Linked DNA regions of Homo sapiens. The protein of the gene in region 3 purifies or fractionates together with the protein of the main gene of each other region. This does not show direct contact. Each region holds a gene or a part of one and is shown on either strand. Other genes may lie near its edges.

What was found.
Region 1: the proteins of NLRP2 (region 3) and TAF13 purify together in Homo sapiens (affinity purification with mass spectrometry; one large-scale study listed by BioGRID and IntAct). This does not show direct contact.
Region 2: the proteins of NLRP2 (region 3) and RBBP6 purify together in Homo sapiens (affinity purification with mass spectrometry, with the first as the bait; one large-scale study listed by BioGRID). This does not show direct contact.

Annotation. Positions count from the first base shown.
Region 1 is NC_000001.11:109,069,504-109,073,154, reverse strand, and holds part of TAF13 (transcription initiation factor TFIID subunit 13), read left to right. Parts: intron 1-3,651. UniProt on the Homo sapiens protein: The TFIID basal transcription factor complex plays a major role in the initiation of RNA polymerase II (Pol II)-dependent transcription.
Region 2 is NC_000016.10:24,556,522-24,560,172, forward strand, and holds part of RBBP6 (E3 ubiquitin-protein ligase RBBP6), read left to right. Parts: intron 1-2,983; coding exon 2,984-3,156; intron 3,157-3,651. UniProt on the Homo sapiens protein: E3 ubiquitin-protein ligase which promotes ubiquitination of YBX1, leading to its degradation by the proteasome.
Region 3 is NC_000019.10:54,997,349-55,001,764, forward strand, and holds the end of NLRP2 (NACHT, LRR and PYD domains-containing protein 2), read left to right. Parts: coding exon 1-139; intron 140-3,411; coding exon 3,412-3,550; 3' UTR 3,551-3,790; downstream 3,791-4,416. UniProt on the Homo sapiens protein: Suppresses TNF- and CD40-induced NFKB1 activity at the level of the IKK complex, by inhibiting NFKBIA degradation induced by TNF. When associated with PYCARD, activates CASP1, leading to the secretion of mature pro-inflammatory cytokine IL1B.

The DNA.
Region 1 (3,651 bases), on a different chromosome or scaffold from region 3:
CTTCTTTGACTGTAAGCCACAGGTAATAATGGATCCTGCAACAGGTGTTGAGGGAGAGTAGCAAGTGAGTTGGGGCTTGGGCTTTGGACTAAGGCCCTGAACAAAGTAAGAAGGTGGTGAACAGCTGGGTGCAGTGGCTCACGTCTGTAATCCCAGCACTTTGGGAGACTGAGGCGGGTGGATCACTGGAGGTCAGGAGTTCGAGACCAGCCTGGCCAACATGATGAAACCCCGTCTCTACTAAAAATACAAAAATTAACCAGACGTGCTCGCTTGAACCCAGGTGGCAGAAGTTTCAGTGAGCCAAGATTGCGCCACTGCACTCTAGCCTGGGTGACACAGCAAGACTCTGTCTTAAAAAAAAAAAAAAAAAAGGTGGTGAATCGTGTAAGGCATTATAGTGACATGGAGGCTAGATGCAGTGGCTCACGCCTGTAATCCCAGCACTTCGGGAGGTCAAGGCAGGCGGACTGCTTGAGCCCAGGAGGTCAAGACCAGCCTGGGCAACATAGTGAAACCCTCTCTCTACAAAAAATACAAAAATTAGCAGGGCATGGTGGCATGCCCCTGTAGTTCCAGCTACTCTGGAGGCTGAGGTGAGAGGATGGCTTGAGCCCAGGAGGTGGAGGTTGCAGTGAGCCCAGATTGCACCACTGCACTCCAGCCTTGGTGACGAAACCAGACCCTGTGTCCAAAATAAATAAACAAATAAAATAAACAATAACATGGAGATTATAATGTATTGATTCTCCATCCTACCCCCTCAGTAGACGGTTTTGACCCTTTTTGGCAACACGAGGAAGGGAGAGCTGCTACTAATACTGATGATCCAGGCCAAGCCCTGGAACACAGCATGAAAATGTGCTCTCCATCTCCCAGTCCTGGGTCCTTTATGTAAAGTTATGTCTAAGTATTGAGAGATGAGGCCGCACAGATTTATGAATATGATTTATTTAGGCTGGGTTATATGTGAGCAGTTCCCAAATGCCCTTGAAACTACAGGGTCAGTATATATATATATATATATATATATGTGTGTATATATATATATATATATATATATATATATATGTGTGTGTATATATATATATATATATATATATGTGTGTGTATATATATATATATATATATATGTGTGTGTATATATATATATATATATATATATATATATATGTGTGTATATATATATATATATATTTTCTTTTTGAGACAGAGTCTCACTGTTGTCAGTCTGGAGTGTAATGGCGCAATCTTGGCTCACTGCAGCCTCTGCCTCCTGGGCTCAAGCGACTCTCCTGCTTCAGCCTCCTGAGTAGCTGGGACTACAGGCACATGCCACGACGCCTAGCTAATTTTGGTATTGTTAGTAGAGACAGGGTTTCATCATGTTGGCCAGGATGGTCTTGATCTCTTGACCTCATGATCCGCCGTCTCAGCCTCCCAAAGTGCTGGGATTACAAGCATGAACCACCGTGCCCAGCTTCAGCGTCAGTGTATCTTTTTTAAGAAAAATTATTTTCTTAATTTTTATTTATTTTCTTAGAGACAGGGTCTCACTCTTCTGTCACTGGGGCTGGAGTACAGTGGCATGATCATAGCTCACTGCAACCTTTAACTCTTGGTGTCAAGTGATCCTCCCACCTCAGCCTCCTGAATAGCTGGGACTATAGGTGCATGCCACCATGCCCAGCTAATTTTTTTTTTTTTTTTTCCTGAGATGGAGCCTTGCTCTGTCACCCAGGCTGGAGTGCAGTGGCGTGATCTCGGCTCACTGCAACCTCCACCTCCCAGGTTTAAGCAATTCTCCTGCCTCAGCCTCCCAAGTAGCTGGGATTACAGGTGTGTGCCACCATGCCCGGCTAATTTTTTGTATTTTTAGTAGAAACGGGTTTCACCATGTTAGCCAGGCTGGTGTTGAACTCCTGACCTCAGGTGATCCACCCCACTCGGCCTCCCAAAGTGCTGGAATTACAGGCGTGAGCCACCGTGCCTGGCCACACCCAACTAATTTTTGTATTTTCAGTAAAGACAAGTTTCACCATGTTGGCCAGACTGGTCTCAAACTCCTAGGCTTAAGTGATCCTCCTGCCTCAGCCTCCCAAAGTGCTAGGATTACAGGCATGAGCCGCCAGACACTGTTTTATTTTTTAAACATCCAAATCCTTTTCCATATTTTGTTTCCTCACTAATGCTGACCATTTCTTATTTCATTTCTCTGATGCTCCTTATACCATTATGTGGTTTTTACTTATTAGGTCAGCATAAGAAGGGGATCCTTGTACCAGAGCATCCCAGAGTGATGTTCAGTCGGTTGTTAGCAAAGACCTTTGTTCCACTGAGATTACTTTGTGATGACAGGAATTTGTAATCTTCAGGCTTCTCCTTATCTTACCTGAATATTCATAGAAGTTACTGACGAAAGATCTATTCTCCTGAACCTTTAAAAAAAAAATTTGGGGGGGACTGGGTACGGTGGCTCATGCCTGTAATCCCAGCACTTTGGGAGGCCAAGGTGGGAGGATCACTTGAGGTCAGGAGTTCAAGACCAGCCTGGCCAACATGGCGAAACCCCGTCTCTAATAAAAATACAAAAATTAGCTCGGCGTGGTGGTGCATGCCTATAATTCCACTACTCAAGGGCCGGGCACGGTGGCTCATGCCTATAATCCCAGCACTTTGGGAGGCTGAGATGGGCGGATCATGAGGTCAGCAGATCCAGACCAGCCTGGCCAACATGTTGAAAACCCATCTCTACTAAAAATAGAAAAATTAGCTGGGCGTGGTGGCCTGCACCTGTAGTCCCAGCTACTTGAGAGGCAGAGGCAGGAGAATCGCTTGAACCCGGGAGGCAGAGGTTGCAGTGAGCCGAGATCACACCACTGAACTCCAGCCTGGTGACAGAGAGAGACTCCGTCTCAAAAAATAAAAATAAAAAAAGAAAGCGTCAAGGTTTTGAAAGATGAAAAAGTCAAGGAACTATCGGATTCGAGGGAACTAAGGAGGCATGACAACTAAATAGTATGGGAACCTGAAACAGAAAAAGGACATTGGTGGAAAAACTTGTAAAATCTGAATGAAGTCTGTACCTGTACCGATGTTAATTTCTTAGCTTTGATGACTCCCTATGGTTGTATAACATGTTAACATAAGGGGAAGCTGGATATAGGGCATATGGGAACCCTGTACTATTTTTGCAACTCAGCTGTAAATCTAAAATTATCTTTTTTTTAAAAAGGCAAAAAAAAGTACAGAATCCAAAACAGAACGATAGGAACTATTGGCTCCTGTGTTTGTTTTTTTACTCCTGTTTCTGGACCTAAAGACTCTTGCCAGTGTAAAACCCTAGGGATATGTCTATCTCAGGCTGGTTTCCAAGTCACCCTTTTCTTCTGTAGGCCTGGTCTACTTTCTTCTCTTTGTACTTCTACTAGTTTTTACTTCTTCTAAATAGAGGAATTATTCTTAATTTACTCATTTCTTCCTTTAGAAGTATTCTATGAGTATCTTTTTTAAAAAAAAAAACTTAGGTACAATAAATTGTGCAAGTCTTAAGTGAACAGCTTGCTGAATTTTATGTATGCTATACAGTCGGCTCTCTATGTCATGGGTTCTGCATCCATGGATTCAACCAACCTCAGATGGAAAATATTC
Region 2 (3,651 bases), on a different chromosome or scaffold from region 3:
GTAACTTTGCTACTTGGATTCCTTGAGAACTTTGTATACCAAAGCCATTAGTCTCTACATCTTGCATTTCTGTGAGGCTGCAGTCTGCTCCATTTAAAGCAAATTTAAAATGGATTTGGGGATTTTTTGTTACCAGTGAGTGCCACTTCCCTTGTAGTCTTCTAATTTTTTCTTTTTCTGTCATTCCCTGCTTTCTTCCTCATTCACATACATACTCCCACATAATCTTATTATATATGCTACTTGCATTTTTAAGTGAACAAAACAGATTGTAATCATTTTGAGAAACAGGAGGCTTAAGAATAAAAGCTCTGCATGATGTTGAGGCAAATTTAAGTGTCAGGCATAAATGAAATACTGAAGTAGCTTGAATAAGTTTGGATATGCCATGTGAGTCTTAAGATTCTCAAGTAAGGTTTATTTTATAAACCACTAGTTCAGATCAACTATAGCTCTATAAAACACCTTAATGCCTTTTTTTTTTTTTTTTTTTTTGAGACCAAGTCTCGCTCTGTCCCTTAGGCTGAAGTGCAGTGGCACAATCTCGGCTAACTGCAAGCTCCACCTCCCAGGTTCACACCATTTTCCTGCCTCAGCCTCCTGAGTAGCTGGGACTACAGGCGCCCGCCACCACGCCCGGCTAATTTTTTGTATTTTTTTAGTAGAGACGGAGTTTCACCGTGTTAGCCTGACCTTGTGCTCCACCCGCCTCGGCCTCTCAAAGTGCTGGGATTACAGGCATGAGCCACCACGTCTGGCCCTTAATGCCCATTTTTAATGTGTATTCAGATTTTATATTATGAACCAGTTTTTAATGAAATGGACAGACATGAAAATTCAGTGGCAGGGTTCAACTAGATAACCTCCCATTTTATCTGCTTTTATTAATGTAGTCAGTTACTTTTTTGATTACCTTCAACAGTTGTGATCTCACATACTATACAGCATAATATTAAGTGTTCTTTGGACTGCTGTTCTCTAACTTTGTTGAGCATAAGAATTTCCTACAAAAGTATGTTAAAAGGCTGGCCAGGTAGAGGGACCTTGGGCAAAAAAAAAAAAGATCCTGGTTGCTCCGCCCCCAATTTTGATTTAGAAGTTATGTGATAAGACCCTGATTCTACATTTTTAACAGGTTGTCCAAGAGATTGTGAAGTTAGGGGATCCTCAGGGCATCAATTTACAGAATTAGGTGTTCATGTTCTCAGTGAAAAAATACATACATATATAAGAACAGTTCCTCAGCTTCATGCTATAAATATTGTTGAAGTGTAGTGTAGTGAGCAGGTGGGGATGATGATGAAAATAGCTATGCCATAGAATGATATTGAAAAGATCTTGTGTTTTTGAATATGTACTTCAGCAAATAGTGTTTTCGTTCACAGATAAGAATGTTTTCCTAAACTCCCAACCCTGCTCACTTCCTCAACTTCACCCCCATCTATTTTTTATCAGTCACCATCCTGTGTTTTTGTGGTTCATCATTGAACAGTCTGTTGTTATGCTGTTTCTAATTCAGAGACATTTCATAGATGTTTCCAAATAACTTTAGCTTGAAATTGATTATTTTTACAGACACAATTAAGAGCAGACCGCTTCATCTATATTATGTAAAATTTTTAAGTAAAAATTTGTGTTGGAAAAATTAGTATCACCTGTAAACCCTAACTAATAATTAACTTCATTGCTTTTGAATGCTGAAATACAAATGCCCAATTGTGCCAGACACACAGCAAATACTGGGGAAAGATGGGAATCTAAATATTTTAAATGAAACTTTCACCCTCTTCACTAACACCACTGATAAGCAACTCAGACTCTTCTTCTGTTTCTTTTTCTATCCTCTGTTCTCCTCTTTTTTTCTTTTTTTTTTTTTTCTTTTTTCTCTCTTTTGGGCAGTGGGAGACTCCTCTTTCACAAATTGGGAACAATGGGGCATAAGCAAATTGATACTTATTTCTGGAATCGTGGTGATGTCTATGGAGCAACTGCAACACAAATAACACACCTAAGGTACCCTACTCTGTACAGCCGAGATTCTTTCATTTTCAGCATTGAGATAAACACACTCTGTTCCTGAATGAAATAGAAAGGGTTTCTCTAGGGATTCCTGTGTTTTGCAAATTTGCCTGATTACAGAGAAGATGGGGGTGTAGAAGCAGTGGTGACAAGTCTGAGAATAGCTATTTTTATTTTTTAATACTATATTTAATGCCCAACATTTCTGCAAAATGCATTTCTACAAAAAACTGGACCTAGAATGTCTAATGAGGTGTTACTTTACATTTTTGTAACACCGATTTTGATCATTTAAGTCACTAATGCTTCTTAATTGACTATAAATTGATTAACCTCTCTTAAAATACTAATAAGTAGATCATGGGTTTTGGTATCTCATTTTATTAATTATTTGTGTGGTAATGACATAATATTTCCCTTGAACTATCTTTCCTTAATTGTATAATGTCAGTACTAATTTTAATTTCCCGTCTTGTGGCATTTACTCCAATACCTTCACAGGTTTGAGAGACTTTTGGGTTATGGAGAAGGGGAGATTTTTTGGGATTTTTAATTTTAATTTTCATTTTTATTTTTTTCAAGAAACTTGATAGAGTAGGAAAAATTGTGATTATGGTGTTGTCTAAATTCAAGTCTTGTCTTTGTCACTTAAATAGAACTTTATGGCACAGAACATTTCGCTTTATTTCTGGCCCTCAGTTCTTAAGAGTGACGGGTTCTAAGATCCTTTTATTGTTTTTGTAGCATTTCTTTGCTTCTTTTTGTTATGCTTGTTTAGACTTTTGTGTCTTTGTTTAGGGTTAGGTTGTACATAATTACTCCCTTATTTTAGAAGATATGGTGCTTGTCTAAACTAATTTGGCATTGCGCTGAATTATGTGTTCCCATTATGTTATAGTAGAACATGTAGCATGAGTACTCTGCCTTCTTAACAATGGTAAAACATGAAAACTTTCTTTTACAGAGAAGCATATGCAATTGGGAAGAAAGAGAAACCTCCCTTCTTACCAGAGGAGCCATCTTCTTCCTCAGAAGAAGATGATCCTATCCCAGATGAATTGTTGTGTCTCATCTGCAAGGATATTATGACTGATGCTGTTGTGATTCCCTGCTGTGGAAACAGTTACTGTGATGAATGTAAGAAGTGCTGAATCTTGGAAGATGTATATTTTAGAATATTTGTATTTACTTGGAATGGCTCTTCCCAACCTCATATGTTTTAATAATAAAATAAATAATGTTGATGACAAGTGTTGATCAATGAGCATTAAGTAGTGAGAAGTCTGTTTTTCTTGCTGTATCTTTTTTAAACAATAACCTGTTTGTCCTTTTAAATTCTAGAATTGACTTCTGTACCTTCATCAGGGTGACTATACTGAGGTGTTTTTCTTAATATAGACTTTTTGTTTCCTGTATGTTTTAAGTGGTATCCAGAATTTTAAAACTTTTTTGGGCCTTAGATAATTCTGGAAATATTTTTAAGTGGTATCTAAATCTTTTTCCTGGATTGTGAATAGCTTATCCTAATATTTCTAAGTGTATTAACACCTGATTCCTGTAGACAGTTTTTGTTTTTTTTTTTTTTTTTTGAGACAGAGTCTCACTGTCTCCCAGGCTGGAGTGCAGTGGTGT
Region 3 (4,416 bases):
GTGAAGACCTCTGCTCTGCCCTCAGCTGCAACCAGAGCCTCGTCACTCTGGACCTGGGTCAGAATCCCTTGGGGTCTAGTGGAGTGAAGATGCTGTTTGAAACCTTGACATGTTCCAGTGGCACCCTCCGGACACTCAGGTATGATCCATTTACTTCCCCATCAGGCTTTCTCCAGAGTGGTAGGTTTAGGGGAAGCATAATGACATGGACCTGCTGTAGGAGACTGATCTGGTAGCTGGATTACAGGTTCCCGCCATCACACCCAGCCAATTTCTGTATTTCACTTGGAGAAACGGGGTTTCACCATGTTGGTCAGGCTGGTCTCAAACTCCTGACCTCAGGTGATCCGCCCGCCTCGGCCTCCCAAAGTGCTGGGATTACAGGCGTGAGCAACCGCACCCGGCCACCTTTTTTTTTTTTTTCCTTTGAGGCAAGAACTCACTATGTTCCCCAGGCTGGAGTCCAGCAGCACAATGATGGCTCGCTGCAGGCTCGCTCCAGCTCCTGGGCTCAAGCAATCCTGCCTCAGTTCCTGAGTAGGTAGGTTTATAAGCATGAACCATTGCACCCAGCCACGGCTGCCGTCTACCTGCTCATGATAGCCATTTGTCACTGGGCTGTGTTTTGTTTGTTGCATTTTGTCAGGGTTTTGGGGTTTTGTTTTGTTTTTTCTTTCTTTTTTTTTTTTTTTTTCTGAGATGGAGTCTCACTCTGTTGCCCAGGCTGGGGTGCAGTGGTTGCTAACTGCAACCTCCACCTCCCAGGTTCCAGCTATTCTCATGCTTCAGCCTCCCAAGTAGCTGGGATTACAGGCATGCACCACCACACCTAGGTAATTTTTGTATTTTTAGTAGAGACAGGGTTTTGCCATGTTGGCCAGGGTGGTCTCAAACTCCTGACCTCCGTGATTTGCCCACCTCAGCATCCCAAAGTGCTGGGATTACAGGCATGAGCCACCGCACCCGGCCTGAGTTGTATTTTGATACCATGGCATCAAAGAACCAAGAAGCCCCTTCCTAGGAATGTGGGAACTTCAGAAATTCTCACAAGCAATATACTCTACTGCTGGCTTAAAATAATCTTTATGTAGAAGAAACATAGATTACTTGTTTATTTAACATGAAACTCAGCCTAAGATACTTTGTAAGTCAAAAGACATATGGACACTAAGGGTTTTTTTAAGCTTTAAGTTTGTTTGTTTGTTTATTTATTATTTATTTTGGAGACAGTTTTACTCTTTTTTTTGGGGTGCATCTTTTTTCTTTTTTTTTTTTTTTTTTCCTTTTTTTTTTTTTTTTTTTTTATTGATCATTCTTGGGTGTTTCTCACAGAGGGGGATTTGGCAGGGTCATAGGACAATAGTGGAGGGAAGGTCAGCAGATAAACAAGTGAACAAAGGTCTCTGGTTTTCCTAGGCAGAGGACCCTGCGGCCTTCCGCAGCGTTTGTGTCCCTGGGTACTTGAGATTAGGGAGTGGTGATGACTCTTAACGAGCGTGCTGCCTTCAGGATCTGTTTAACAAAGCATATCTTGCACCGCCCTTAATCCGTTTAACTCTGAGTGGACACAGCACATGTTTCAGAGAGCACGGGGTTGGGGGTAAGGTCACAGATCAACAGGATCCCAAGGCAGAAGAATTTTTCTTAGTACAGAACAAAATGGGGGGCTGACCCCCCCACCTCCCTCCCGGACAGGGCGGCTGGCCGGTTAGAGGGGCTCCTCACTTCCCATTAGGGGCGGCCGGGCAGAGGCGCCCCTCACCTCCCGGACAGGGCGGCTGGCTGGGCGGGGGGCTGACCCCCCCACCTCCCCGCCCGGCCAGAGTTTTACTCTTGTTGTCCAGCCTGGAGCGCAATGGCGCTATCTCGGCTTACTGCAACCTCCGCCTCCCGGGTTCAAGAGGTTCTCCTCCCTCAGCCTCCCAAGTAGCTGGGACTACAGGCATGTGCCACCACACCTGGCTAATCTTGTATTTTTAATAGAGACAGGGTTTCTCCATATTGGTCAGGCTGGTCTCGAACTCCTGACTTCAGGTGACCCGCCTGCCTCAGCCTCCCAAAGTGCTAAGATTACAGGCGTGAGCCACCATGCCTGGCCTGCATCTCCTCTGTTTAACTGGTACTCCGGGGTCCACTGAGTAGAAGTTGCCAAAGTGGGTGATAGAGCGGGTAAGCAGGTATTAGAGCTATAGCCCAGCTGTACTCAGCAATTCCATTTTCTGTGTATGATAATCAACAAGCATCTCAAACTGCACAATGGCTATATACCATTACAAGGTTAACCTGATGTTATGTTTTTCTCTATCAGATCAACATGGTTGAGAATAAGAGGAATGAAAAAAAGGATTAAAAAGAGAAATGAAAGTCTTTAATATTACATTTTATTATTTACTTCATTTATTTTTTAGACAAAAATCTCACTCTATTGCTCAGGCTGGAGTGCAGGGGCCCGATCTCAGCTCACTGTAACCTCCGCCTCCCAGGTTCAAGTGATTCTCCTGTGTCAGCTTCCTGAGTAGCTGGGATTATAGGGATGCACCATCACACCCAACTAACTTTTATATTTTTAGTAGAGATGGACTTTCACCATCTTGCCTAGGCTGGTCTCAAACTCCTGACCTCAAGTGATCTGCCCACCTCACTCTCCCAAAGTGCTGGCATTACAGGCATGACCCACCACATCTGGCCTCATTTTATATTTAAAAATAAAAAATAAGCAAATCAAGCCAGGTACAGTTTAGGCAACATGGTAAAACCCCAACTCTACTAAAAATACAAAAATTAGCTGAGCATGGTGGCAGGTGCCTGTAGTCCCAGCTACTCGGGAGGCAGAGGATAGGATGGCTTGAACCCAAGAGGCACAGGTTGCAGTGAGCTGAGATGGTACCACTGCACTCCAGCTTGGGCAACAGAGAGACTGTCTTTTTTTTTTTTTTTTTTTTTTTTTTTTTTTTTTTTTTTGAGATCGCCCAGGCTGGAGTACAGTGGCACGATCTCGGCTCACTGCAAGCTCCGCCTCCCGGGTTCACACCATTCTCCTGCCTCAGCCTCCTGAGTAGCTGGGACTACAGGCGTCCGCCACCACGCCCGGCTAATTTTTTGTATTTTTTTAGTAGAGACAGGGTTTCACCGTGTTAGCCAGGATGGTCTTGATCTGCTGACCTCGTGATCCACCCGCCTCAGCCTCCTAAAGTGCTGGGAATTACAGGCGTGAGCCATCACGCCCCACCTGAGACTGTCTTTTAAAAAAAAAAAAAAAAAATCAATGTGGAACACTCCTTTGCCACCTAGAATAATCAGGAAAGGTGACCCATGCCCTGTGCCTCCTTAACAGACTTTCAGGTACTTGGGAATTTGAAACAAATCTCCTTGATGCACAAAGTAACCTTTTCTTCCCCCATTGTACCCCAGGTTGAAAATCGATGACTTTAATGATGAACTCAATAAGCTGCTGGAAGAAATAGAAGAAAAAAACCCACAACTGATTATTGATACTGAGAAACATCATCCCTGGGCAGAAAGGCCTTCTTCTCATGACTTCATGATCTGAATCCCCCCGAGTCATTCATTCTCCATGAAGTCATCGATTTTCCAGGTGTTGGTGAACTGCCTGTGACTCCTCTCCTCCCCGGCCCCTACCCCTCAGGGATAATGAGTTCATTGCTGGGCTAGATGTTTTAGCCATGATTCTGCCTCTGTTTTATACCTGCACACATCCTTATCTTTGTTACATATGAAATATCTGTATCACGGGTATATTGAGAGAAATAAAGGTGAGAGCATTCACAAATGAAGCTGTTACTTAATAATGGGCTTTGACAAGTTAGAGAAAAGATATCTTACTGGGTAGAACCTGGGGGGTGGGGGAAGTGACAGTGTTTAATTGCATTGATTTCTATTGCCTTGTCAATCTTTGCCTTGCCTTGGTATTTCCTTTCTTTTTTCTTTTCTTTTTTTTTTTTTTTTTTTTTAGACTGAGTTTCACTCTGTTGCCCACGCTGGAGTACACTGGCACGATCTCAGCTTACTACAACCTGGCAGGTTCAAGCGATTCTCCTGTCTCAGCCTCCTGAGTAGCTGGGATTACAAGCATCCCCCACCACACCCGGCTAAATTTTTTTGTATTTTTAATAGAGATGAGGTTTCACCATGTTGGCCAGTCTGGTCTCAAACTCCTGACCTCAAGTGATCCACCCACCTCAGCCTCCCAGAGTGCTGGGATTACAGGCATGAGCCACTGTACCCGGCTTTTTTTTTTTTCTTTTTCTTTTTCCTCAAGCATGAGTGTTGCTCTGTTGCCCAGGCTGGAATACAGCAGCATGATGATAGCTCACTGCAGCCTCAAGCTCCCAGGTTCAAGCGATCCTCCAGCCTCAGCCTCCTCAGTAGCTGGGACTACAGGTGCACACCACCAAA